2 separate regions of the Homo sapiens genome follow, and region 2 is linked to region 1. Evidence: fine-mapped expression QTL. A gene starts in region 1. The other region holds a variant in brackets. All regions are shown on one strand. Distances are between the middles of the regions.

Region 1 (16,956 bases):
AAAAAAAAAGGTCTTTTTTTCAAAATATTACAGCTCATTGACAATGCACCTAGTCACCCAAGAGCTCTTATAGACATGTACCGGGAGGTTAATGTTTTCAGTCCTGCTAACACAGCATCCTTTTCTGCAACCAACAAATCAAGGAGTAATTTTGACTTTCAAGTTTTATTCTTTAAGAAATACACATCATAAGGCTATAACTCCCACAGATACTGATTCTTCTTATATATCAGAGCAAAGTAAATTGAAAACCACCTGGAGACAACTTACCATTCTAGATGCCATTAAAAAGATTTGTGATTCATGGAAGGAAGACAAAGTGTCAACATTAACAGACACTTGGAAGAAGTTGAATCAAACCCTCATGGATAACTTGCAGGCGTTCAAGACTTCAGTGGTGGAAGTAACTGCAGATGTGGTGGAAATAGCAAGAGAACTAGAACTGGAAGTGGAGCCTGAAGATGTGGCTGAATTGATGCAATTTTATCAGGAAACTTTAACAAATGAGGAGTTGCTTTTTATGGATGAGCAAAGAAAATGGTTCTTGAGACAAATATTATTCCTGGTGAACATGCTGTGAACATTGTTGAAATGCTAATAAAGTATTCTGAATATTGCATAAACTTAGTTGATAAAGCAGTAGCAGGATTTGAGAGGACTGACTTCAATTTTGAAAGAAGTTTACGATGAGTAAAATGCTATTTAACAGCATCGCATTCTACAGATAAAAATTTCATAAAAGGAAGACTAAATTGATGCTACAAACTTCACCATTGTCTTATTTTAAAAATAGCCACATCTACCCCATCCTTCAGCAACCACTGCTGTGATCCATCAGCAGCCATCAACATCAAGGCAAGACGCTACACCAGCAAAAAGATTTTCACTCACTAAAGACTCAAATAATCAGCATTTTTAGCAATAAACTATTTTTAATAAAACTATGTACATTTTCCAGACATAATGCTGTTGTATACTTAATAGAAGACGTTGTAGCTCAAACATAACTTTTACACGAATTGGGAAAGCAAATAATTAATGTGACTCACTTTATTGCAATAATTGCTTTATTGTGGTGGTCTGGAACTGAACCCACAATATTTCCGAGGCATGCCTGTAAGTTAGTTTTAAATTGAAGAAGACAGAAGTCAAATTTTGCTGGAGTTCACTTAGATGACATGTAGAAGATTTAGTATTTGAAATGAGGTGGTCTGATCTGTGCTACTAACGTTTGTGCTATTTTGATTTTATGTATAAGATACTTTAGATATGAATACCAGAAAAAGAATCACAGTGATTGGCCTACATTTTTAATTGTATTGTTGCCATGCACTAAGATATTATTCTTCTAAGTTTATGTGTGCTATAGGGATGTATACACATATGTTTTTCCATTTTAGGGAGATGAAACAAAGTTGAGTTGCTAATTTTGTACAGTTTTCTGAATTATTGGTTCCTATTTAGTTTCTCTAAATAGACAATTCAAAATAAAAAACATACTGATACCATCACCCAAATCCAAGATCTCCAGACATTTGAAGTAACAAGTAAAATTTGAGGTATTTCTATTATTTTTCCTAAGCCCTCCAAATCTGCTTAATTATTGATAGGCTAGAAAAAAGATAAAGATTCAAGTGTCTTTCAGTGTTAGCGCACAAAGCTTTAAGAGTAACACATATTTATTGAGTATGTATTACATACTTGGTATTCTGATCGATACTTTATATAATCATATTAAATGAGCTTCACAATTAACTTATGAGCAAGGTAATAATATTAAACCCATTTCAAGGTGAGAACATTACTTATCCAAAGCCAGATAGAGAGTAAGTTCTAAAGTAGTGATATTTCTCTAACTGTATTAAAGACTACTTGTATGAGAATTGTGTCGTGATGCTGGTAAAAACCCAGGTCTCTGTGTCTCCTCAGTCTTCCCACTGAGTAACATCAGCATTTGAGTTTCCTATTTGGTTTCTCTATGTTTTAACCAAAACCTCCGTTGAGATGTTTGAGAATCATGTTCGTAAATGGTAGCCACTAGTTAAAAAAGGGAAGCTGTGGGAAAGAAATGCAATTTTTTCCTATTATCCTGTAAAAGGGTGCCTTTCCACATATTCTGTAAATACTTCCTGAGTTACTCAGCAAAAATAAAGCACAGAACTGTTAGGAAAATACTAATTAAAGCATTTTTACTTGTCCTTCTGTCTAGTAGCCTCTGAAACTTAAGAAGCATTTATTCATTTTACAAACCCAGTGAGTTTTCTTGCAAACTTTCTTTTCCTTCTCTAGCGCAGAAAATTACTACTGTTGAATCTAACCAGAGGTAGACTTGGAATAGTAATTCTATTTGCGTAATGTTTTAATGATTGAGCTATTTTTCTCATGAACTATCTTATACAAAGAGAAACAAATATCTCTCTGTTTTGTGAGCCAGGGTTTCGGGTTGGTGCTGGTAAGAGAATAGTGAATGGGGAAGTCATAGTGTTCGCTTTCATGGAGTTTCTGGTACAGTTAACACTCTAAAGTTCTATTTTAGGTTGTAGAACTGTGAGATATAAAAGATGGTTGTTATTATTCCTATTTTAAATATGAGAAAAGGGAAGTTAAAGAGGTTATGAAACTTGTTCATGATTGTAATTTAGTTAATTGACATCTAAATTATTTTGCTGATTCTAAGTTTAATATTCTTTTTACTATCTTACACCGCCTTTCAAACTTAGATATTTTGGACAGATTTCAAACATAGATATTTTGCACAACTTATATTAATTAAGCCCTAACCTATATTGGCCTGATTTTGATGTTATATGTGTATATCTGAAGATGCAGTAAATCATACCATGTTCAGGTAATTAGAAATGAAGGACAAGAAGAAAGAAAATTAAAGGAAAATAGAACAATTGGGAAGCAAATGATAAACTCACGTGATGGCTTCTGTATATTCAAAGAAGGGACTAGGTAATTCTGATAGGAAAGATAATATTAAAAATAACTCCAGTGAGAAGAAAGGGAGAAATAAGCAATTTTCAGCTACTGATGCATTCATACATATCTTTTATTGTACAATAAAGCCCTTATCTGTGTTATCCTGTCCACCTCTTTGCATTAAGGTAGTTGGTCCACCTTGGTCATGCCAGCCTTCCTCTCACACATTAAATAATGTTTGTTCTCACAGAAGGTAGGGTGCATTTTCCCATTATGAAAATAAGCACAATTCATATTTCCTTTTCCATCTTCCAAAAACTCAAACCTGTGAAGGGAAAGTTAGAATAAATTCCTTTGAAAACTGAGCAAACAATCAGTAATCAGACTCTGCGTATAGTAGTTTGATGCACCAAATAGAGACTGAGGAAAATAGGAAAAAAAAACAAAAAAAAAAACGATTCTCATTGTTGAGAAAGTTCCACCCTGCTTGGCAGTACAAGATATGCATATTTAAAAAGCCCAATATCAATTTCATTTAGCATAAAATTAGGAGCAAGGGAACAGTAGGTACAATAGGAGCCCTGAAGAAGTGATGGAGATGGCTCCAAAATAATGGGAAAACGCATTATCTACAAGATCAGACTTTAGTTCGGTATTGATGGAAGGTCAGGACTCAGATGAACTGACAGGAGATGGAAGAGCCCTACAGGACAAGTAGCTGCACTAGATGGGAATACGCTCATGGAAAAGTGAGTTGATTCAGTAGTTTTGAAATCAGGATTTATGTTGCAAGATAAATCATCTAACACAGCAGGCTGTATTGTAATTGTCTGTTAAGTTATATTTCTTTCTTTCTAAACTGCTTATAATGAGATGACAAGGAATATATACTTATTGGTTTATTTGGAGAATACCTGCAGAACTATGTGACAAAGTTGTTCTATGTGCTGAGGATACACTGATAAAGAAAGACAAGAAAGCTAATGTCTTTCTTGTTGGGGAACTTTCATTTAAGTGGGGCGATACCGGTAAGAAGCCCACAAAAAATAGACAAGAAAAATTGAGACAGTGGTAAGAGTTACAAAGAAACAAAACAGTGGTGGACTGTATGGATATGGGTTTAAGGGAGGCTAATTTAGTTTGGGTAGAGTTAGGTTCACTGAAGAAGTGATGTTTAAATAGAGACTTGAGTCTCAGTGGAGAGATGGTCATGGAGTTGTGGAGGCAGAGCATTCTAGAAGAAAATAGCAAGACAAAAGCCTTAAGGTAACAAAACGAGTTTGATTTGTTGGAAGAATGTAAAGAACACTAAGTTGCCTGCAATATTGTAAATGAGGCAGCAAGCAATAGGAGATAGGAGATAAAGCCCAAGGTCTGTGAAGAGGCTTGCTTGTAGTTGTAGTATCCTAAGATCCTATCTATAGTAAATACTTAATAAATATTTGTTTAAAAATTTAATTCATAATTTGAGTAATAATCAGATTATATAAGTTTTGGTTATCAGTTTAAATTTTAATTGAAGAGAGACTGCAGTTTTGATATACAGGATGAACAAAAGATGTTGAGACTGCAGATTGGAAAGCCATATAGGAAGCAACTCCACTCAATGCAATCAGTCCCTTTGCCTGGATTGTTTGTAGAAGGACAAAGCTTCGTTAATGGACATTGGAATTATCTTGTGAAATACAATGTATCGAATTCTTGGAGACTCCCAGAATAGAGGAATAGGCAAAACAATATTGAAAACTCAAAAGGACTCTCAAGATAACAACTTTCAACTGTAAAATAATGATATGAAATTTTGTTTTAAAAATATGTGAAGATAATCAGAACAAGCAAAACACAAAAACACACACACATGTGCATGCGCGCACACACACACACACACTCACACATACACATACATGCACACAGTGTTCCATGGTAAGGTTGAATGTAAAAATGAATGGGAATAATATCAGAGATAAAGGTGGATTGTGGCTTAGATAAAGAGCAAAGTAATGGGAGAGAGGGGAAAGAATTGTCTTATGACCAGCGCTGTCTTGTTTGAATTAGCAGGTAAGTGACCCAGCTGCTGCTTCTATAACCCATAGTAGTGACTTGGACTGAGAGAAGAGGGAATCTCAAGAATAAGAGTTTCCAGTACTCCCTCCTATTCTAAGTGTCCAGTGACTTACATATTTTCTGAGATAACCGAGCCATCCTCCCACTTCCAGACCTCATTCGACTTCTGGCGAGATAATCCGACCCAACGAATTAAATGAGTCCTGGCTTTGATGTACTCCTATTGTAAACATAAATAAACACAATGGTCAGAATCCCTCCACAGCTCTTGGTATGATAGACAAAGCTTCATGATAAGACGTTGGACAAAAAATGTTGGATTACATGTCTATATTAGTATTAATGGATTACATTTGATGTTTGAAATTGTACCAATTTGACTTGTCTGAGAACTTAAAAAAAACTTATAGGACACAGGTAAAATTGTACACAAAATAGCTGATATTCTAATCTTCTTTTGTGTTTATAACATGTATTTAGATCTTCAACCAGTTGAGGATTATACTCCCAAATAGAATACCAAATATGATTCAAAGGAATAAATGTAAACAGAGAAAGGAAATACAAAGAAATACATTGTTGATGAGCTGTATATTCCTTAGAGTTAAAGCCCTACCTGCTTTGGTTTTATTGCTCAGCTTGCCTATAAAATCTTACATATGGAAGTATTAACTTGTTGTAGTTAATTGGATAAAGGCATTTATGATGTCTTTCTCAAAAGGATTTATAAATAACGTACATCTACCTTTCCCTATTTACTTTCTTCTAATTAGCAATTATCACTATCTACTAAACTATATACTATATCATTTGCTTTGTTTCTTGGCTGTTGCTTTAACTAGAATATACTCTTGTCGAGGTTAAGCATTTTTCTTTCTGTCTTACTAACTGCATAGGTCCAAATTCTGGAATAGTTTCAGCACATAGTTGCTGAATTAATGAAGGAATAAGTGAATCAATCAATCTATGGGTAACAAAATTATGTGAAGGCCAAATGCTTATATATTCTGAGACCTCCCAGAATAACAAGTGATAATGCATTCTTGGTAAATAAAAAATGACTTGAGCTTCTTGACAGATATGTGAGACTCAAAATGGCATTCCACAGGAGATATTGTGTGAAAGTCACATGTGACTGTTTATTTCTTAAAGCTTGAGCCACCGGGAACCTTTCTGTTATATCCTAATATTTTCTTTAAAATATATCAATATTATATACTTCCCAATAGGAACTGACAGATAAATTCTACCTGAAATCCAACTATACAATTTCTTTTTCTGAAAAAGTTGCATGACTACTTTTAGTTATAAATCTTCAACCTGGCATCTGCCTAGACTAATACAAATTAAGGATATGCATATATGTCTCGAATTAATCTCTATATAATAGAGCTGAGATTTTAGAAAACTATCTTATTTTGCTGGAGTGGAAAGAAAAGCTAATTTATGTAACTGGATATCTTCCGTATGCGTCTGAGTCCACAGAAACAGTAAGTGGACAGCACAGCAAGTTAGAACAACAGAGGACACAAATAAATATGAACATCACTGGGCTGACTCTTCATGTGTGACCCACTATGTACCTGAGCTGTCAGGAAGGGACAAGTCAATTTGACTGATCAACTCTATCAGTGTTGTAGAATATTATGAGTGGATTGAATATCTGGGTTCTGTAATTCTTACTAGGTTTCACAAGGGTCTTAGATTAGTACAAACTGAAAGATGTTAAGAAAAATGTAAAAAACAAAAAAAGGTCAAGTGTTACATTTGAGGTTTCTCTTCCTTGCCTCCAAAATATTTGACATAAGAATCTTCTTACCACAATGTTCCGGTTGTCAATCTTCAGGAGAGTAGCATTCATGTCAGTGCAGTACTGCTTACTCTCTTCCCATGTTAAGTTGTGCCTGAAGAACCCATAGCAGCTATCTCCATAATATCTCCAGTTTGTGTCACAGGGGCTGCATTTATGACCTTCTGGAGAAACCAAGCACAGGAATGGTGTATTTTTTCTAAATTGGGCTTACATTTTCTTCACATTCAATGTTTTCTGCAGATCTCAAACTCCCTTCAGTTGCCATCAGAGAAATGCTCCAGGGGTTGGAGAGATGAAGAGGTTAAAAAAACAATACTTACTGAAAGTGCCCTTTAGTTCTGATTGTTTTACCACATATTGACAGAAGCGCTTTGCTAATTGTTGCAGAGTTCCTGTGCGATTTTCATTCTCACCTTGTAGGTAATTGCGCTGCATGACAGCTAGGTTTAAAAAGTAAATAATAATAATTTGTAATTAGAACCATAGAAATGATGCAAAGGTCTGTCATTGAATTTTCATTTCCTTAACTTTGCCAATATATGAGGAGTTTACTAGATACACATGATTAAATGAATGTTGAAAAGTGTGGAGGGGCTATAAAGAACAAATTAAGAAATACACAGAACTGACGCCTGAGGGTTAATAAGTGAACTGTTTGAAGGAGACAATCACAAATAAAAAATCCCAACATCGATAACATCCCCAGAGCCTGTATTCATTTGCTTGAATACAAGCTTCTCAGCTGAGTTATAGAGGTGAATGACCTCTTATTTTCTGTTCTTTCTGTGATGCCAAACTATTCATTCATTTAAAAATACATACTGATTTCTTGTTATGCTTAAAGTACTTGTGATATTCAGGTAAATAATAAAGAAATACAAGAGGATAAATGTTAGATTCTAACATCTTTTAAAAAAATCAACAAATACACAAACAAGCAACAACTACACAGACTTCAATGTGCTATTGGAGGGCCATGAGAATTACAGAAAGAAGAAATGCACAGTAACTTAGTAAACAAAATGAGAAACAGAAAATTTTAGGTAGAGAGAATAGAATGAGAAAAATTTCAGACAAGGGAACATGGAATTTATATATGAAATTGAAAAACTCCAGTTTGGCTGGTTCTTAGGAATGCAAGATAGGAAAAGGGATGAAAAAGTTTTTAAAAATAGTTTGGATCCACACTGAGGAGGGTCTTAAAGGCCAGTAGTACATTCTTAAAAATAACTTTTCATTAGTTAAAATCTTAAAATCTTATTTTAATCACAAGGAAACAGTCAGTGTTCTCCTTTATTGAGATTCTCTTGGCAACTATCTGTAGGACAACTGTAGAAGTGATAAACAGACAAATAGCGACCATTGAGAAGCTTAGTGGGATATGCCATGACCCTTCAGTATTACCTTCCTCCAGTCAAATTTCTGGCAGAGTCAACACTTACACCAAATCCCCAGAGCCACCAGCCCGACAACCATCCCCACGCACAGGATCAGCAGAATCAAAGCCATCACACGCCACCAGGAGGAGGATGCAGAGCCAACTGTAGGCATATAATAAAGACATCAAGGAGCAGGCAGTATGGGTTAGCTATGGGGAAGGCTCACCCCTGCCCCTGCCCCTGCCTTCTCAGGGTCCTCCAAGTAATAGAAAGAGCTTTGCTGGCAGATCTCACCTGTGTTCTCCTCATGATCATCAACAATAGGCATGGCCCACCCCTATACCATACATCCATTCTCATCTCCAATGCACTTTACCTCTCCAAGCTGAAATATTACTTGCTGTTAAGGCCTGATGTGTTTGTATTTTTTGTTTTGTTTTGTTTTGTTTTGTTTTGTTTTATGCTCACCCATGCCATAAATAATTGCTTTAATAAACAGCAAATGAAGAATCACACTCATTTGCTCACATATAGAAAATGAAATTTCCACTCTTTTCCGTTATCCCCTTGACTTCTATGCCCTCGAGTATTAAACGCTCAGAATCTTAATGCAATTTTCCCTGCACATATATTGGATGTTTGTAATCTAAATAGGTCTGTATGAGCTTATGAAAACACTACTCAAATGCTTTAGAGCATTAACATCATTCAAGAAAAAGAAATTAAACTATATATATTATCAATAGTAGAAAAAGAAAGAATTGAATCAACTCATTTTTTAAATTAATTTCCAAATTATTGGCTCTGAGCATTCTTACCGGAGATGAGAGCTGGTTTCCGAGTTTTAATATTTAAGGTGATGTATCCATCTTCATCCTGCATGGCTTCCCGAGTACTGCAACTGAGCTCAGAGTTCAATGACTTTGCAAAATGTAGTTTCCAACTTTACAATTTCAGTATCTGTCAGTTTATGATCTTCCTGTCTTTAGTAGGGTAGAACCATGTGAGATGGGACACATTTGTTTTCCTTTGCTTATTGTTTTCCAGGAAGCTTCTTCATAGCTGCTCAGAGATACATGGACCTTGAACACAAAAACACAAAAATAATAATAACTTGTGGTAAAGGAGTAGATAAGGTATTTGCTTCCTGCTTTTTTTTTATCTTCAACACTAAATAAAGGGACATTCCATCATGTGCATCCTTTCTAAGAACAAAAGTTCATGCTTTATCTTAGCCCTAGCTTAGTCTAAATTACATTGCTCAAATGAGAGATTTCTGCTGAAAATTCATGGATATAGCTCACCAGCAGATATATAGTTTATCTCATTGTGAGAAGCAAGTGTAATATAATTGGATCTGATAGGGGCTAAATTAGCTGTTTCATAGTCTTGTGTTGGAAGAGATCATTCCTGATTATGACCTAGAATTTACACAACTTCTTGCATATTTCATACTTTTTTTTATTTGAAGGATCCACATGAGGCAGGCCTGATATTGCTTAGATTTAGGTATTGAAGGAAAACTATCAAATCAAGTAAAATAATACAGAGTTGGTGACTTGCTGCATTGTTCTTTAGTAGTGTTTGTGCTTTAAAGTGAGTTTCCTGGAATGGAAGAATTTTGATTTGATGAAATCACTTCATTTCAAGTACAGCTGTGCTTAGATGAATATTTGAGACTGAATGGTTCCTAGCACCTTTTCATCACAATATAATATGTATTGCACACACTTAACTTTATGAAATGGGCTTTTACATTATTTTAGCTTGCACTGAAAGTAGTTGTAAGAACAGCCATACAAAGCTAGCTGATGCATTTATTATAGGAATATTGGGGAGGATGTTGTCTATTTTGCCATAGGGTAACTCTTACATAGTTTTATGGCAGATTTTTATTTTTGTTAAATCACCATGACTAGCAAAGCTTTAAGTAGTAGGCATTTACCTTATAAATAATTTGAATTCTATTTTTCTTTACTTAGCAGAGTGTTAGACTTTTCAATATAGTGATTATGTGGGCTGCAGTAGCAGATATTTTGTTTATTAACATGCCCTTTGGCATAGCCCGTAGATTTTTTCTCCCCTGCTATCTCCTTCACTCTGAATTTCTTGTCAATTCACTTAAAATTATCTTTCATTCTAAATTTCTTTCTCTATACTCTTCAAATTATTTTGAGAATGAGGTGAAGAATAAGCATAACACGTATAAAAGACATTCCCTGATTTTGGAAAGCCAAACTTAGTATGATTCAAATATTTTTACCAAAACTAATTCTTAATTAAAAAAAAACACATTTGAAATAAATGCCAAATTTTAAGAAAAGACTAAAAATTTTTAAAAAACATTAAATCCCAACACCATTTTTGTTGCTGTGTTTCTTATCTCAGTTAAAATATTCAGGGGTTCCCAATCATAAGCTGGGTAAATTCAGTCACTTACCATTCATCTACCACTGCTTCTGTTCTCATAACTTCTGTTTCAGCTAAAAGGGATTCTTCGCTCTCCCATCATTTATCCTCAGGCTTTTCTGGAAGATTGGGGTTGGAATGGGGTTTGATCCTCCCTCTCTTCCTTCCTTTCTACATCTACTCATCAGCAAGTCCTGAGGCTATTCTGTCACAGTAACCCCTGTCTTTCACGTTCTTTTGGTCACTGCTTTCCTTCAGTGTTTTGTTACCTAAAATATACAGAAACACTAAAAAATAATCGAATAAATAACTGTGACAAAGTAACAGAGAGAAAAGAAAATGTGTGGAGGTTATAGTACAAATGACACTTTTCCAATAAAGCTTTACTCTGTTCTCTTAGGTACCAAACAGGTACATATGAAAACTTAATTTGTTACATTAAATCAGATATGTAAAGGTAAGATCCAAGGACATTGAGACAATTTTTAAATTATTGTAAACATTTTTTGTTTATTAACAAAAACTTTAAGATGGTATTAAAGAGAACAATTAGATTGCTTTGTTGAGGTTTCCACATTCTCTAGGACTTGAGCAGCTGATTTCATTATAAAACATGTCCCATGTATTTTTGTAAACCACCAGGAATGTGCCAGGATTAGTTCTTGATCCTTTAATGCTTAGAACTGCATATTTAATGCCTGAAGTAGGTTAACACTCCGCCTTTGAAGATATTCCTTTCCTATATCTCAGGCTCTGGACTTTCCATTGCTTCATTCCTCTTTCTCATTGTAATTTAACCTTGCTTTTTGGATCTTTGATCATTCCAGCCACAGTCTGAGAGTCTTATATCTTATCTGTGTTCCACAAAATATACGTTTGCCTTTCTGTGTATCCCCCCTCACATGACTTTGTGGTGTTAGAAGCAAGCTGAGCGAAGACAGAGACTCTCAGGGCCAAAGGAACTAGCCCTTGATAACATTGAGTTCTAATTTTGCTCCCTCCCCACATTCTATAAATGTAAGTTGAGTTACTCAGCAAAAATTAAGCAGAGAACTGCAGGAAAGAGAGATAGATATCACAAATGCTTCTTTTCCTTTTCCCAAATCCAGAGTCTTTGCTAGTTACCTTTTAATCACCCTCCAAGTCCCGTTATTAGCTTATTTTATTTCTGCTTCAATATTTTAACCTTGCTTGAATATCTTATTCTCTTCTCCTTTTCTTCACTAAGGAAACTATATACAGCTAAACAAAATCTTTTTTTTTTTTTTTTGAGACTGAGTCTTGCTCTGTCGTCCAGGCTGGAGTGCAGTGGCGCCATCTTGGCTCACTGCAAGCTCCGCCTCCTGGGTTCACGCCGTTCTCCTGCCTCAGCCTCCCGAGTAGCTGGGAGTACAGGCGCCCACCACCACGCCTGGCTAATTTTTTTTGTATTTTTAGTAGAGACGCGGTTTCACCGTGTTAGTCAGGATGGTCTTGATCTCCTGACCTCGTGATCCACCCGCCTCGGCCTCCCAAAGTGCTGGGATTACAGGCTTTAGCTACCGCGCCTGGCCTAAAAAAATTCTTTATTCCAAATTTCCTGATGAAATTGAATTTAAAATAAAACCTTTTATTCATTCAATATTTTACAGATTAAGAACACTCTAAATTGTCTGTTTTAAAGGAAATATTTAATGAATGTTAATTATGTTTCAGACACTGAAATTGGTGCTGAGTATTCATGGAGAAAAATCATGAGGTTAGTCTTTATGAAGCAGAGTGTTAGATTTTAGCTATGTGAACTTCTTTAAAAAAATTTACAAGTTGGGTAATGTTTTTTTTTTTTTTTTTTTTGAGACGGAGTCTCGCTCTGTCGCCCAGGCTGGAGTGCAGTGGCGCGATCTCGGCTCACTGCAAGCTCCGCCTCCCGGGTTCACCCCATTCTCCTGCCACAGCCTCCCAAGTAGTTGGGACTACAGGCGCCCGCCACCACGGCCGGCTAATTTTTTGTATTTTTAATAGAGACGGGGTTTCACCGTGTTAGCCAGGATGATCTCGATCTCCTGACCTCGTGATCCGCCCGCCTCGGCCTCCCCAAGTGCTAGGATTACAGGCGTGAGCCACCGCACCCGGCAATTTGAGGAACTTTTTAATCATTACACTTCTTGTAAAAAGTAGTACTATTTACCCAGTTTCTAAATTCTTTCGACTACATTATGAAGTCTTTCATAGACTCCATTATCTATGTTTAAGGCTGAATAATGAGTTAAAGACACTAATAACAATGACAAGGAGTACATGCAGTAAGAATGAAAATTAGTGGAATACGTAACATTGTGGTTAAGACTGATCAATATACAGGGATGTCCTGTATATATTTTACACATGTAAAATATGTGTAAAAGAGAAAGACAACAAGATGTTGACCACTGTGGGTGTTATAATGATTCCAGACAGAAACAAAAGGAAGTGAGTATTTTGCAACTGGTGATAGCTATTCTGAGACTTTTTAACATAAACCACTTTTAAACTAAAGCTGTTTGCCTTTGACTTACCAGGCTTTCCACAAATACTAAATACTGTTTAATTTGGTAATGGTAGGATTTCCTGTCATAGAAAAGTATAATTAATATTTTCTCCTTCATTTACAGAAAGCTTAAACATGTGGATTTCAAAGTGAAATGAGCTTTTTTTTAAAGTTAATAAGCTAAACAATTAATAACTATCCGACCAAAATTACAGCAGAGCATTTGTTACAAACAGTAGGGAAACTGAAGGAAAAAATGTGTCAGTCTGCAGTCATACCGCAAAGTTGATCAGGCATATGTATACAGAACATATGTAAGTAAAATGTTAAACAATAAATAACAATGAATTGGATTAAGATTTACATTAATATTTGAAGAAAATGTAAATATTGACTAAGAGGAGAAAGGAGAAGGCAATGTTTTTCAGGCAGGGCAAACAACTGAATAAAGGTCAGGAAGTTCGAATACATGTACCTCTTGTAAAAAGCAATGCCAGGCGTCAGGCATGCTAGCTCACTCCTGTAATCCCAACACGTTGGGAGGCCAAGGTAGGAAGACTGCTTGAGCTCAGGAGTTTGAGACCAGCCTGAGCAACATGCTGAAACCCTTCCTCTACCAAAAAAATACAAAACTTAGCCGGGAGTGGTGGTGTGCGCCTGTAGTCCCAGCTACTTGGGAGGCTGAGGTGGAAGGTTCACTTGAGCCCAGGAGGCAGAGGTTGCAATGAGCCAAAATTGTGCCATTGCAGTCCAGCCTGGGTGACAGAGCCAGACCATCTCAAAAAGAAATAAAAAATAAAAAATAAGCAGTACCATCTAACCTCATCTAATCCACCCAGTGTGATTGAGGGAAATAGTGTGATTAAGGTGAAATGGGAGAGGTCTGGCCCTCTTAGCAGGGTATGTGACGGGCATGTCTGTCTGTTTGACTGTCATGAGCTCAAATCCCTTGTGGGAGGGAGAGCATGCAGACGGGCAGGTGCAGGAGTTGGGGTGAGCACTTTGGGCTGTGGCCCCACTGTAGTGTCTAGGGGTGGGTGCCTGGAACCCCAGTGTTACAAAGTTCTTTTAGCTCTGCCATCTGCAGACAACATAAGTGTTAACCAGCTCAGTGCCTCCCCGGCCTTTTCTCAAGGGCAGAGGGCCAGTGTGACAGCTTTCTGTATTCCAAGCTCTTGTCCAGCATCCCAGAAGAAACGGGTCACACATGAACTCAAAGGATGAATGTGGGGGTTTTACTGAGTTGTGGAAGTGGCTCCTAGTGGGATGAATGGGGAGCTGGAAGGTGGATGAAATGGGAAGGTGATCTTCCTCTGGAGTTTGGCCATCCAACGGCCAAACTACTCTCTGACCACTCCCAGCCAAACTCCTCTTGGCGTTCAGAAGTTCCTCCTCTTCTCTCCTTCTCTGTCATGTCATTCCACCTTTCATCTGCTTGTCTTCTCATCTCCTCGTCTGCTCATCTGATCTGGAGCCTGGAGTTCAGGGTTTATATGGGTACAGAATAGGGGGCATGGCAGGCCAAAAGGCAACTTTTTGGGGCATGAAAACAGGAATGTCTGTCCCCATTTGGAGCTGCCAGTCTCCCAGCTTAAGGGTGGGGCACGTGCCAGGGAACCACTCTCTTCTTTATAAATATATATATATAACATTTCAAGTTCTAGGGTACATGTGCACAATGTGCAGGTTTGTTACATATGTATACATGTGCCATGTTGGTATGCTGCACCCATTAACTTGTCATTTACATTAGGTGTATCTCCTAATGCTATCCCTCCCCACTCCCCCGACCCCACGACAGGCCCCGGTGTGTGGTAGGAACAACCCTCTTCTACCCAGTATTTCCCTGTCTCTTGTCTGAATCAAAGAGAAAGTGAAATGATCTAGTATATTTGAATTAAGGATTCACAGAATGTTAAGTATATCTACTATTGTACTTTCCAATTAAAATTACTATAAAACTTCATGGCAGGGACTATTAATTAATCATTTATTTGAACATATGTTTACTGATCACTGCAGATGTCCAAGGCACAATTCTATTTTCTGGGGACCAATGGTTAATGAATTATACAAGCATTTAGCTTATATTATAGTAGAAGGTGGTCAGCACAGATAGTAAAGAAACATAGAAAGCAAAGATCAAGATAATTGTATATCATGGAAAGTGTTATGAATGAAGAAAAGTGATATAATCGAGTTCTTCTGGACAGGCTCAAGCAGACCCTCGTTGTGCTCATGAGGATTGGTTTGTTTAAGCTTCACTGTCAGTGCTTGGACAATTGCCCAGGTTTCTTCCATTTTTAATATGATCCAGAATAATCCAAACTTGCTTCTACGATGACAGCTGCCATTTATTGCTCTTTCTATATGCTTTTATCAGTTATATTTGTGGCAGGAATTAAATTTATGACAGATTTACTATTAAGAAAAATAAAGCACAGAGGTTCAATAACTTGCCGAAAGCCACAAGGCAAGTAAGTGTTGCTCCAGGATTTGAATCAATTTGTCTGTCTTCATAGTGCTTCATTTTAATTGGGATATTTTATTATGCTGGTCAGGTATATTCACCTGATGGGGTAAATATATTAATACATTTCAAAATAAATTCCATCCTATATTCATCCTCTGTCTCCTTCTTGTGGCCATTTATTTTCCTTCTGCTTTTAGTTTATTTTTGTTTCCTTTAAGTCTTTGATACCTCTGGCTTTCATCTTCACTTTTCCCTATTTCTTTTTTGTAAATAATTCGGAATTAATTGTCATTCTTGCCATTCTCTGGGTACTTTCCCATTTAAACCCCACTTTAAAAGTGTCCTCTGAAATAGGCATGAAATGTGAGAACAGAAAGAACAGAGTGAGAATGAATCCTTCTGTCATGTTAACTCAATATTTCTTTTAAGATCTTCTAAATCAATAATACTTCCACATTTAATAACTGTGTTTCCATATTTTCCAAGGTGAACAATATTTTCTGACAAGTTTAATTCATGTGAGAGCAGCAAGAATTGTCAAAGGTGATTCCAAGTTTTTAGCTGAGAAACTGTACGTATGGAGTGTACATTTGTTAAGATGAAGAAACACATTGGGAAAAGGTACCCATTTTTTGATGTGTTAAGCTAGAAAATCCTATAATATATCAAAGTGAATATGCCAAGAATCCATTCAGATACGTGGTCCTGTAGATCAAGCGCTGGTATGGAGATAACAATTTTTGGACATTATCAATGTATGGCTGTTATCTCAAGGCACGAATCTATAAGAAATTAATTCCCATTCTGGCCATTCTCTGGGTACTATTCAATTTAGTTCATTCCAGGATAAGTTTTTTGTTTTTTTTTTAAGAAGACCAAGAATTGAACTCTAGGACACAACAACATCTTAAATTAATTTAAAGAGGAATCAGTTAATCTGAGGGAGGATTGGGTTGTGAGTGAAGCAAAAGGAAAACCAAGAGAATGGTGTCCTAGGGAACAAAGCATTTTGGAGAAGAAAGTTTGTCACGAAAAGTGAATAATCAGTTATTTAAAATTCTGTTTATACGATGTGTAAGATGAATCCTGAGAACTAGCCATTGGATGTGTTTATACTGAGGTAATGTTGACTTTAGCAGGAGTGTTTTTTAGAAATAGTGAAAGAAGGGCCAGGCGTGGTGGCTCACGCCTGTAATCTCAGCACTTTGGGAGGCCGAGGGGGACAGATCACGAGGTCAGGAGATCGAGACCATCCTGGCTAACACGGTGAAACCCCGTCTCTACTAAAAATACAAAAAATTAGCCGGGCGGGGTGGCAGGCGCCTGTAGTCCCAGTTACTCTGGAGGCTGAGGCAGGGGAATGGCATGAACCTGGGAGGCGGAGCTT
Region 2 (12,478 bases), 37 kb before region 1:
AAGCTCTGCCTCCCGGGTTCACGCCATTCTCCTGCCTCAGCCTCCTGAGTAGCTGGGACCACAGGCGCCCGCCACCACGCCCGGCTAATTTTTTGTATTTTTTAGTAGAGAAGAGGTTTCACCATGTTAGCCAGGATGGTCTTGATCTCCTGACCTCATGATCCTCCTGCCTCAGCCTCCCAAAGTGCTGGGATTACAGGTGTAAGCAATCATGCCCAGCCAACTTTATGTTTCTTACTTAGGTGAACATCTAATATATACAAGTTATAAAAATGGTTAACAAGGAAATAATGAATAGCTTTGATATCTCTTTTCTCATAAGTAATATAGATAATTGCTAAAAAAGTGAATGAAATATAAATGGCATAAATGCTCTAAGTGAACTTTTTGTGTAATTTAATATCTTGAAGTTATTTTGGATGCTCATGAGATGTGTGGGTCATTTCCAATTATGAAAGGGTTTCAATACAGAAAGTTAAATGATGTAAAAACCTTAATTCCTTTAAATCTCAGTTTTCCTAAGCAATCAAAAACCCAATAACAATGACATAGAAATTATTTTGATAAAATGTAAAATTTGTTTCTCAGGTCAGTTACCAAAAGGCAAAGAAAAACCTCCTGCAGTGTGATTGCTTCTCCTATCAGAGTCCCATCTCGAAAACCTGAAAATCAAACCTGATAAATGATGTAGACATATCAAGAAAAGCCAAGAGGACAGAATCAAGCTATACTGGAGGAAAACGTTGCTTCTCTAGAATTTTAAAATAAATATTTCAGCATCAGACCATGACAGCAGTTAAGGCAAGAGGGAAAAAAAAGATACAAGAACTGACAAAGTTGAAGGAGATAGTTTCATTTCAGGTTCCTTCAAGGGGAGACAAGCTGACAGCAACAAAACACAAGAAAGCTGCACTTTGGAGATATAGATCTGAGAAGTATTCAAAAAGTAACAGATTATAGAGTCAAAATCAAAACCTCTCATCCAATCAATATTTTAAGAAAACCTTGTTCTAACCCAGGGGACTAATCTATATCTCTCTCCCCTAGTTACTGGATCCTTTCTACCCTGTTTCATAAACAACCTAAGTCTATAATTTGAATTAACCTTTAGATAACTTCTGAGTTAAACAAAATTATTTCTTTAATCAATAAGAACACATCTTCTTTGGCACATTGTACATGGAATCATACAATTTGCTGGAATTCTTATTCTTAGTAATCCTAAATTTTAATGGAAACCTAGGAAGCAAGAAATCCTGGGCTGTCTATCAGATATTAACATTTTATAGATGAGAAACATGAATGTTCTCAGGCCCAGAAAACTCAAGTTGTTTTGGGACCTCAAGAAAAGAGGAATTCACCCAATTCATACAGGTATCTGCAAGCACAGATCAATTATTGGTTGTGCTCGAGAGGCCTTTAAAAATCAAATCTGAGATTCCTTATGAAAAGTTCCAGCAAAGCCAATTTAAAAAAGCCTATATGAACAATAATTCTTGCTTCAGTTTATGCAAATAATCAGGCAAACTATAATAAGATTAAAACAGATTTTGCAAATAAATTGGTCCTACTGTGATTTGCCTTTCATGGAAATGGGGAGCTGGAGAGAGAAACATTATGTTTTGGAAGAAAACTGCAGTACACCTGTTATTAGATTAATCTTTGACCTATGGCAACCTGGTCATCCATGGTATGGAGATACATCTGTGCTGTGCTGCATTCAGTTATTAAAAGTATAAGTTACCAGTGGAATTTAGATATGGATTCATCACCTCAGAAGTTGGTTCACTGGATGCATAAGGAAATAAAAACTAATTTTTAAAAAAGCAAAATTTTCAATCCCTTGGTTTTTGTTATCGATATAAACCAAAATGTATCTGAGGTAGGTCTCAATTAATTTCAAAGTTTATTTTGCCAAGGGTAGGGATATGTGCCTGAAACACAAGTCTGTGCCTTTCTCCAAAGATGCTTTTGAGGGCTTCAATATTTAAAGGGGAAAGGGCAGATATTGGGGAAAGAGGAAGAAATTTTAAAAAGGTGTGGGTAGGGCGGTGGCTCATGCCTGTAATCCCAGTAATTTGGGAGGCCAAGGTGGGCAGATCACCTGAGGTCAGGAGTTTGAGACTAGCCTGACCAACATGGACAAACCCCATCTCTACTAAAAATACAAAAATTAGCTGGGTGTGGTGGTGCACGGCTGTAATCCCAGCTACTCAGGAGGCTGAGGCAGGAGAATCACTTGAACTCGGGAGACAGAGGTTGCAGTGAGCCAAAATCGTGCCACTGCATTCCAGCCTGGGTGATGACAGAGTGAGACTTCATCTCAAAAAAAAAAAAAACAAAAAAACAAAAAAAAGGTGTGGGTAGATAAGAGACAAATGGTTGTATTCTTTTGAGATTTTGATCAGACTTTCACTAAATACACAATTACATGTGAGAGTGGGGTAAAGAAATAGTCACTTATGCCTCAGTCTAGATCAGTGAATCTGCATTTTTATACAAACGAAAGGGCAGAGGAAGCAATCAGATATGCATTTGTTTCAGATGAGCAGAGGGTTGACTTCAAGTTCTATCCTTTGTCCCATACCTGTGAAGATAAGCTATCAATTTACATTGCCAGGGTGAAATTCAATCGAATAAAATGGGAGCCAGGTTTGCCTGACACAATTCCCAGCTTGACTTCTCTCTTTGGCTTAGTGATTTGGGGACCCCAAGATTTATTTTCCTTTCACATCTGTAATAGCTAAAATTAAAGTAGGAGAATATTGGGTCAGGCTTTGAGGCCAAACCAAGCCTAGATGTGGGTCTGTCTGAACTCAGATCACTAGCCTCAAGGCTGCTCATGAAGAAGAAAATTATGCCAGGAAACCAGAAAGTACCTCTGAGATCTGTGGTTTCCTGGAAGGTAGTCAATGTGGGGAAGGAGTGAATTAAAGTGACTTCTGAAACTAGAGGGTATAATGTGAAGGAATTGTTCTATTTTGCAAATCAGTATCATTAGCTTCCTGAACCTTTACTAAAATAAATTGTGAGAGTAATTACTTTAGGCACAATGTCTTTGGTTTTAAATGCTGCAGAGTGGAAGATCCGGTTGATACAGAACCCACGGCTCACAATTGAACAGTTGCAGATGGGTACATATAATCCGGGCACACAGGAGGTTATTCCCAAAAGAACAGCCTACTTGGTGGACTGGATAAAACACTGTGAGAACTATTTACTCTGAGAAGGAGAATTGTCCCACTCCACCTATAAATGCCAAGTGGAGCACTCCAGATGAAGCAACAGATATGCTTCAAATGTAAGCCACGGGGGACTGGCTTTATAATGATGTGGCAGGCCAGGTCACTAATGCAGGCCTCCATAACAACTGTTTCAGTACTGACTGAGTGGTTAAGTTAAATGTTAAAAGGTAAAAAAGCCAGTGGCCTTAT[A/G]CAAACTCTGGATTGTAACAAAAGCCCACCACGAGTTTTGCCTAGGACTTTCCTGGGGCTTGGACCCATGACAAGATAATGAAGGAATTCTTAACAGGACCAGATTAGGATTAAACAAGTTTTACCGGCAGTCTGAAGAAACTTCCCAGGCTTCCACAGACAAGTTTATTGGAGATCTCAAGGAAGTTCCCAAACCTCCATGATTTAGCAGGAGACAAGATAGGGTAATCACCCCAGCACCTGGACCCATATAGATTAAGTAAATTTACTAAGCCTCCAGAGGAAGGTCTTCAGAACTCAGATCTCAGTTATAGATTACAAGAAGTTAATCACTCATGTTTTTAGATGAATGCACTTACACACAGACATATAACTTAGAAGGTAATAAGCTCTGGAAGACTTTGTAATTTTGAGTTGGTCTGGCAATATTTTCCAGGCCTTCTCCCTATAACTTGTTAAAGAAATAAAAACTCTTCCTCCCCAGTTCATCTGCATCTTGTTACTGGGCTGGAAGAAATAGCAGTCTGACCCTCAGTTTGGTCCAGGAACAATGATAGAAATATTAACTTGGCTGGGCGTGGTGGCTCACTCCTGTGATCCCTGCACTTTGGGAGGCTGAGGCGGGTGGATCACATGAGGTCAGGAGTTTGAGACCAGCCTGGCCAACATGATGAAACCCCATGTCTACTAAAAATACAAAAAATTAGCTGGGCGTGGTGGCGGGCACCTGTAACCCCAGCTACTCTGGAGGCTGAGGCAGGAGAATCTCTTGAACCAGTGAGGCGGAGGTTGCAGTGAGTAGAGATTGTGCCACTGCACTCCAGCCTGGGAGAGAAGAGCGAAACTCTGTCTCAAAAAAAAAAAAAAAGAAGAAAGAAATATTAACCTTACTTTTTGGTTTTTGGCTCTTTCGTTGCTTTGAGTTTTAATGGTAATGAGTCCCTGGCACCTCTATTCTTGTGTGGCCTAGAATGTTTAATTGACTATAAGTCTTTTTTGACTCTAAGTCCCTTGGTTACAGGGGTCCCACTGACGAACAGGATGGACTCGGGGCAGGTAGTCATACCACCTTGGAAATGATATGGAACAAAATAAAGTTTGGCAATCAATGCTCCCTCTGGCATATTCCAAGGAGACCTCAGTTTCCAAGAGATAAATCTTACCTGGGAAAAGGTCTTGCCCCTTGCCCTGCTGAGGGTACTGGTAGCTCCCAGAAATGGATTAGCTCTTAGCCCCTTTCAAAATGTTTACTTGGAGACTGTTTTCCTGGACTCTCTGATGCTTGAGGATTTTTTCCTCCCCTGAAACAGAAGCTATGTCATACATGAAACAATTAGGGAATATATTAACTAGTCTCTCCAACAGACTTCATTTCTGTATGGACTTGCCTCTTCCCTGTTTGAAACCAGGGAATCGAATCATACTGAAGACCTGGAAATCCCATCAGGCTGAAGACTAGCTGCAACCACAATAGGTCAGTCTTTTTAAGGTGCTGCTGACCACCCACTCGTCTATCAAGTTAGCCAGTGTTAAACCATGAATTCAACATACTCAGTAAAACTAGTCACTGTGGGATCCCTCCAGGGGAAACAGTCATGCTCTTGTGAACCTATACATGGCCTTAAGTTAATATTGAAAGCCCAGCCAAAGATCCTAGATAAGAAACTGTAAAAGGAATATGCATTTTTCAGTTATTATTCTCTTTAAACCCACAGCTTTTCACATATAAGATATAATGAATCAGGAATACTTTTTGGTAGGCTTAGGATTGTTCTCTTGGATTCCCCAAGGGATCCACTCCAAATTCTCTGGTATTTTAAAATTGGTTTATCTATATTATTTATCATCCTTGTTCAATGTGGCCTAAAACGTTGTTCTAAAACTGAAATAAAAGTACCCAGATCATAGTGCTCCAATGACTACTTCTGATTATAGTGCCACATTTCCATTCCTTATCATTATTCCACCTCACACGTCCTCAGCATGAAGCAGCCAGAAGGATCAATGACCAGATTCTCCATGATTGAGGAAGTGATAAATAGAAAAGAGAGACTGAAACCGGCCCCGTTATCTTATAGAACTAATATTTACAGTTGTTTTTGTTTGTTTTGCTTTGGAACATAGAAATGGACCCTGTCTGGTCTTAAAACTTGAAACTTGTTTGTTTTCCTGAGTTTCTTGCTTAGAAAACCGACTTTCAGGCAAGGAACTGAAACTCATCAGAGCACCACACCCAGGCAATGAGACTGCAGATCCTTCACCCAGCATGATTTTTTCCCTACCTCTGCCTAATTTCTATTTTTCCCCTGTCCACGTAGCATCAAACTCTGTAAAATATTTGAAGAGATTTATTCTGAGCCAAATATGAGTGACCATGCCCGTGACACAGCCCTCAGGAGGCCCTGCGAACATGCACCCAAGGTGGTTCAGGTACACATTGGTTTTGTACATTTTAGGGAGACACGAGGCTTCAATCAACTATAAACATTTACTGATTGGCAATTGGTTGAGTTTATCTAAAGGTCTGGAATCAATAGAAAAGAAATGTCTGGGTTGTGGTAAGAGGTTGTAGAGACCAAGGTTTTATCATGCAAATGAAGCCTCCAGACAGCAGACTTGAGAGAGACTTAAGTATTAATGCCTGAGAGATATAATGAAGCGTGTTCGACACGCACTTCCTGTCATGGCCTGAACCCATCTCTCAGGTTAAATTTTCAAAGAGCTGTGGTTGAAGAGGGAGTCCATTCAGATGGTTGAGGGGCCTTAGAATTTCATTTTTGGTTTACACTCCCCACACAGCTACATTTCTGCCTGCACATAGCTACATTCCTTCCTCACTATATAACCTCCCAATTTTAGTTTGTTGGAGAACAAAGCCAGAATAAAGCCAATCCTAGTCATAGCATTGCAACTTGTATCAGATGAAAGAAACCTACAAAAAGATAATTATAAAATTTAGATAAAATGTATAAAACAACTGAGAAGGCAAAATTTGAGGGGCTCCAATTAATCAAGGTTTACCGCTTATATTCTGTGTGACTGCCAGAAAAAAAGAAACAAAACTTTTTGGTAGGAAGATCATTTAAAATTTCTGTTTTTAATACATAAGGCCTGTTATTTAATAAAAAATTATGAGACAACCTAAAAAAAAAGAATTAAATATCAAAACACCAATTGACAAGCCAAATGATAAAAACTGGCCTACATATGGTTCAGAAAATGATTTCAATAAATCTACTCTTCACCATTCTAATCCCTTTGCAGTGCCCTAGGATGGTGACTGACTCTCATGTATAATATCCCTGGACACTATTGTCCTGAAGCTCTAGGTATGTTTGTGCTAATAGGAAGAATAGGCAAAAGATTTAAAGGTGGGAGAATCCTTCCCTACAGCACTAGGAAATGGATATGGAGTTGTTCTCGCTGAGTGTACCTCCAGGGAGGCAGCCTTCATCAGCTATAGTTTCTGCTGCTTCAGTTAATTGCTACCAGCAATGTTCTCTCAGGCCTAATGTAGTAATGGCTTCCGGCAGTAGCTAGCCCTGGGGTATTTCACTATCCCTCATGGTTTCCTTTGGTCTTATCTCTATCTTGTAAATTGTCCTGTTATTTTATCTTCTTAAATTTTCCTTTTAATGTATAACCGGTTTTTTCTTTTTTTTTTTTTTTTTTGGATCCCAAGTGTGTGTTTCTTTTTGGTACCTGAGTATATCACTGTCACTGTGGTCTCTCAACTTTTAAATTATGTGACTCTGAAGGTGTGTGTCTCCAAATTTTTATCCCTGTGCACTTTTCTTCACCTGTCTTCATTTCTTTCCCTTTTTTCCGTTATAACTTTCACTCACATCCGTGTGAAGAGACCACCAAACAGGCTTTGTGTGAGCAACAAGGCTGTTTATTTCACCTGGGTGCAGGTGGGCTGAGTCCGAAAAGAGAGTCAGCGAAGGGAGATAGGGGTGGAGCTGTTTTATAAGATTTGGGTAGGTAGTGGGAAATTACAGTCAAAGGGGGCTTGTTCTCTGGCGGACAGGAGTGGGGGCCACAAGGTGCTCAGTGGGGGAGCTTTTGAGCCAGGATGAGCCAGGAGAAGGAATTTTATAATGTCATCAGTTAAGGCAGGAACAGACCATTTTCACTTCTTTTGTAGTGGAATGTCATCTGTTAAGGCAGGAACCGGCCATCTGGATGTGTATGTGCAGGTCACAGGGGATAGGATGGTTTAGCTTGGGCTCAGAGGCCTGACATTCCTGTCTCCTTATATTAATAAGAAAATAAAAATGAAATAGTGGTAAAGTGTTGGGACGGCAAAAATTTTGGGGGCTTGGTATGGAGAGATAACGGGCGATATTTCTCAGGGCTGCTTCCAGCGGGATTAGGGGCGATGTGGGAACCTAGAGTGGGAGAGATTAAGCTGAAGGAAGATTTCATGCTAAGGGGTGATATTGTGGAGTTGCTAGAAGAAACATTTGTCATTTAGAATTATTCGTGATGGCCTGGATACGGTTTTGTATGAATTGAAAAACTAAACAGAATAAGAGAAGGAGAAAAACAGGTATTAAAGGACTAAGAATTGGGAGGACCTAGGACATCTAATTAGAGAGTGTCCAAGGGGGTTCAGCATAATTACTTACTTGGTTGGCAAGTTTTTGGGCTCTATCCTTGAGTTTTTTATGTTGTCATACACCAGGCCAGATTGATTTAGGTAGAAACAACACTCTTCATTTAAGAATATACAGAGTCCTCCTTTTTCAGCAGTGACTAAGTCAAGGCCTCAGCGGTTTTGGAGGACAACTGCAGCTAAAGAGTCAACTTGGGCCTGGAGGACTGATAAAGTTTGTGATATGTCTGTGATGCTAGCAGAGAAGACACTAGAGAGGCTATGGAAGGTCGTGACAGAGGTTGAAATGCCTCCTATTCCAGTACCGAGAGCAATAGTGGAGGCAGAAAGTCTTAAACTGATAAGCAAGGGAATTAGTGGAATAACTCTTTTTTGTCGTGTCGGTGTCATGAGGGGAACAGGGAGCTCTTCGGTCCTATTTGCAAATTGAATTTTAGGAGTAAGGAAAACTAGTGTGCATGTACCTGTCCAATTAGCAGGTAGACACATGGAGGTAGAGGATCCACAGAGGAAGAAGAGACCTTGTGCGAGGCAAAACTGGAGAAGCAAAGTAAAAAGATGAGAAGGAGTGCTGAAAGGGGTGTCTTGTACCCAGACTCCTGGGGATCCAGCTAGGGCAGCAGCCATCAGAGGTTGTAATGGGGACTGGTGGGGTAACTGCGTAGAGGGGGAGGTTCGATTTTCATGGTGTATGAGAAAATGTTGAGTGTCTATGAGCTACCTTTCACTGTTATTTATGGGGCTGGGTATAAGTAAACAACAAGAGGGCTTTGGAGATGAAGAGTAAAGGAACATCAAAGTGAAAGGTTACCCAGGGGAATTCCAGTGGGTCTTTGCTGAGAGATACATAAAGGAGCAGCCACAGGAATAGTAGTTTGTGTTGTGAGAGGTAAATACGGGGGGAGTAGAGTTGATACAAGGAGAAAGGTTTTTTAAGTAAGTGTGGAGGAGGGCGGCAGCTTGCTGACGTGAAATGTCTGGGGAGGTCTAGCTGGACCTGTCTAGAAAGTAAATGAGTTCATCAGGAGGGTAAAGGTGAGGGCTGTTAAAGGAAGTTTGGAGGTGTAGGAGACAGGAGATGTTGCCTAGTCTGCATGTAAGGTGGGGACAGCTGTGTAGGCATTGGAAGAAAGGGAAATGCAAAGCTAGAGTTTGTTCGCTAAGGAGGGATTAGAAACAGCTAGGAGAGAATGAGTAATGTTTATAGTGTGGTGGAGATAGCTGGGGAGAGGTAGAGGGTGGCATAAGAATGGGAATGAGAATAAGATTGAGTATAAAAGTAAAGAATAGAACTTCATCAGGGTGAAAGTATTGGAGGGTCCCCTGCCAGCAAAGATTATCTATCCCCTCTGAGAGGGAGTTAAGAGTTGCCAGTCCTGGGTGGGGGCAAATCCTCGAGCTTGATGTGTAGGGAAAGGAGGGGGCCTGAATAATCTATGAGGAGGAGTAGAATAGTAGATGGAACAGAAGTTATTTCCTTGAGGATAGATTTCCACGATGGAAAGGAAATGAGAGGTTCTAAGAGGTGGGCTGGTGACTTGTACTATAGCATAGCCTGCCTTTGCTGGTGTGTGGCGATTAGGCCTGGTGGAACTACTATGAATAAACTAAGTGTGTTCAGGGTGAGGAACACGAAAGAAGGAAATATGAGGAAAAGGGGTGAATGTCAGGTGAATCAGAGAGATACAGTCATAGGGGTCAGGTGTGGTATCCAGAATACTGTGGGAGGCTGGATTGAAGTCTGGGCCAGGAACAATGGTAATTGTCAGAGACTTAACAAAAAGGGAGTGTAGCTGAAGGAGCCAGGGAGCAGAAAGTGTATGCGTCAGGTGGGAGAAAGAAAATAGATTTTGGAAATTATGAGAACCGTAGAGAATGAGTTGGGCATAGTTTGTGATTTTTTGGGCCTCTAAAAGTATTAAAGCAGCGGCAGCCACTGCATGCAGACATGAGGGCTAGGCTAAAATGGTAAGGTCAAGTTGTTTGGACAGAAAGGCTACAGGGTGCGGTCCCAGCTCTTGTGTAAGAATTCTGACTGCCCTAACCATGCCTAGGAAGGAAAGGAGTTGTTGTTTTGTAGAAGGGATTGGGGTTTGGGAAATTAGCCGGACATGATCAGCAGGGAGAGCACATGTGTTTTTATGAGAATTATGCTGAGATAGGTAAGAGATGAGGAAGAAATTTGGGCTTGACTGAAGTAATGGGGGCTGTCTGTGAAGCCTTGCGGCAATACAGCCTAGGTAATTTGCTGAGTCTGATGGGTGTCAGGGTCAGTCCAAGTGAAAGTGAAGAGAGGCTGGGATGACGGGTGCAAAGGAATAGTAAAGAAAGCATGTTTGAGACCCAGAACAGAATAATGGGTTGTGGAGGGAGATATTGAGGATAGGAGAGTATATGGATTTGGCACCATGGGGTGGTTAGGCAAAACAATTTGGTTGATAAGGCACAGATCCTGAACTAACCTGTAAGCCTTGTCTGGTTTTAGGACAGGTAAAATGGGGGAATTGTAAGGGGAGTTTATAGGCTTTAAAAGGCCATGCTGTAGCAGGAGAGTGATAATAGGCTGTAATCCTTTTAAAGCGTGCTGTGGGATAGGATATTGGCATTGAGCGGGGTAAGGTGATTAGGTTTTAATGGGATGGTAAGGGGTGCAGGATCAGTCGCTAAGGAGGCAGTAGAGGTGTCCTATACTTGTGGGTTAAGGTGGGGAGATACAAGGGGAGGATGTGAAGGAGGCTTTGACCTGGGGGAAAAGGTGGCAATGAGGTGTGGCTGTAGCCTAGGAATAGTTAGGGAAGCAGATAATTTAGTTAAAGTGTCTCAGCCTAATAAGGGAACTAGGCAGGTGGGGATAACTAAAAAGGAGTGCTTAAAAGAGTATTGTCTAAGTTGGCACAAGAGTTGGGGAGTTTTAAGAGGTTTAGAAGCCTGGCCATCAGTACTTACAACAGTTATGAAGGCAAGGGAAACAGGCCTTTGAAAAGAAGGTAATGTGGAGTGGGTAGCCTCCGTATTGATTAAGAAGGGGACGGGCTTACCCTCCACTGTGAGAGTTACCTAGAGTGTCTGTGATGGTCCTGTAGGCTTCTGAGGTGATTGGGCAGTGACAGTCTTCAGTTGTTAAGCCGAGAAGATCTGGGAAGGAGTCAGTCAGAGAGCCTTGGGGCAGAGTTCCAGGGGCTATGGGAGTGGCTGCCGGTGAGATGGACAGTCTGATTTCCAGTGGGGTCTTGCACAGATGGGACATGGCTTAGGAGGAATCTTGGGCTGCGGGCATTCTCTGGCCAGGTGGCCAGATTTCTGGCACTTTTAGCAAGCTCCTGGGGGAGGCAGGCCTGGAGGAATGCCTGGCCACTGTGGTTTAGGCGTTTGGAAGTTCTTGCGTGCTGGAGATGTGGCTGGGGTTTGTCTCACAGTGGAGGCAAGGAATTGCAACTCAGAAATATGTTGCTACTTTGCTGCCTCTACTTTATTATTGTACACTTTGAAGGCGAGGTTAATTAAGTCCTGTTGTGGGGTTTGAGGACTGGAATTTAATTTTTGGAGTTTTATTTAATGTCGGGAGCAGATTGGGTAATAAAATGTATATTGAGAATAAGACGGCCTTTTGACCTTTTAGGATCTAGGGCTGTAAAGCGTCTCAGGGTTGCTGCCAAACGAGCCATGAACTGGGCTGGGTTATTATATTTGATGAAAAAGAGCCTAAACGCTATCTGATTTGGGATAAAGAAAAAGGAACATTAACCTTGACTATGCCTTTAGCTCCAGCCACCTTTTTAAGAGGAAATTGCTGAACAGGTTGGGGAGGGCTAGTCATGGAATGAAACTGTAAGCTGGGCCAGGTGTGAGGAGAGGAGGTGATAAAAGGATTACAGGGTGGAGAAGTGGAGGCTGAGGAAGAATTGGGACCTAGCTCGGCCTGGTGAGGAGGCGAGAGGTCACATGGGTTTGTAGAAAAGGAAGATTAGAAAGACTCAGCGATGCTTGGGGTTGGGACTGAGGGGACAGGCGGGAGGGAAAGAAGGAAGATTTGGGATGAGTTGCATTGGGAACAGAGACTAGGGAGGGACCAATGTGTAAAAGAATGCCTGGACGTCAGGCACCTCAGACCGTTTGCCTATTTTACAACAAGAATTATTTAGATCTTGTAGGATGGAAAAATGGAAAGTGACATTTTCTGGCTATGTGGAACTACTGTCGAGTTTGTATTGGGGTCAAGTGGCATTGCAGAAGAAAATAAGGCATTTAGGTTTTAGGTCAGCTGTGAATTGAAGAGGTTTTAGGTTTTTAAGAGCACAGGCTAAGGGAGAAGAAGGGGGAATGGAGGGCGGAAGCTTGCCCATAGTGAAGGAGGCAAGCCCAGAGAGAAGAGAGAGTAGAGACATGGAGAGAAGGGGTTGGGGGTTCTTGCCCCCAAGAAGAGCGG

Which allele goes with the higher level. Positions count from the first base shown, and alleles are read on the strand shown. Sizes are in standard deviations (SD) of each study's normalised expression.
For the expression in monocytes of the gene that starts at base 9,084 in region 1, A is the low allele of the variant in region 2 and G is the other (moderate effect, 0.71 SD a copy in Quach 2016).

The links. PIP is the estimated chance that this variant, and not a neighbour inherited with it, causes the effect.
Region 2: its variant is fine-mapped to the expression of CLEC1B in monocytes (Quach 2016, PIP 0.95).

What each region holds. Positions count from the first base shown.
Region 1 is chr12:9,990,038-10,006,993 of GRCh38, forward strand. It overlaps CLEC1B (C-type lectin domain family 1 member B), which reads right to left and starts at 9,084. Exons shown (of 6, transcript NM_016509.4): 1 at 9,000-9,084; 2 at 8,245-8,343; 3 at 7,123-7,242; 4 at 6,809-6,963; 5 at 5,103-5,209; 6 at 3,038-3,250. The coding sequence starts at 9,063. The coding sequence ends at 3,106. It also overlaps a transcript of CLEC12A not described here and a transcript of CLEC12B not described here.
Region 2 is chr12:9,955,166-9,967,643 of GRCh38, forward strand. LOC124902874 (a long non-coding RNA gene) reads left to right here. Exons shown (of 2, transcript XR_007063207.1): 2 at 589-1,832. It also overlaps a transcript of CLEC12A not described here. Among named protein-coding and RNA genes, the nearest start is that of CLEC12A-AS1, 8.1 kb to the left of the region's middle. The variant A/G (reference allele first, on the strand shown) is at 3,435.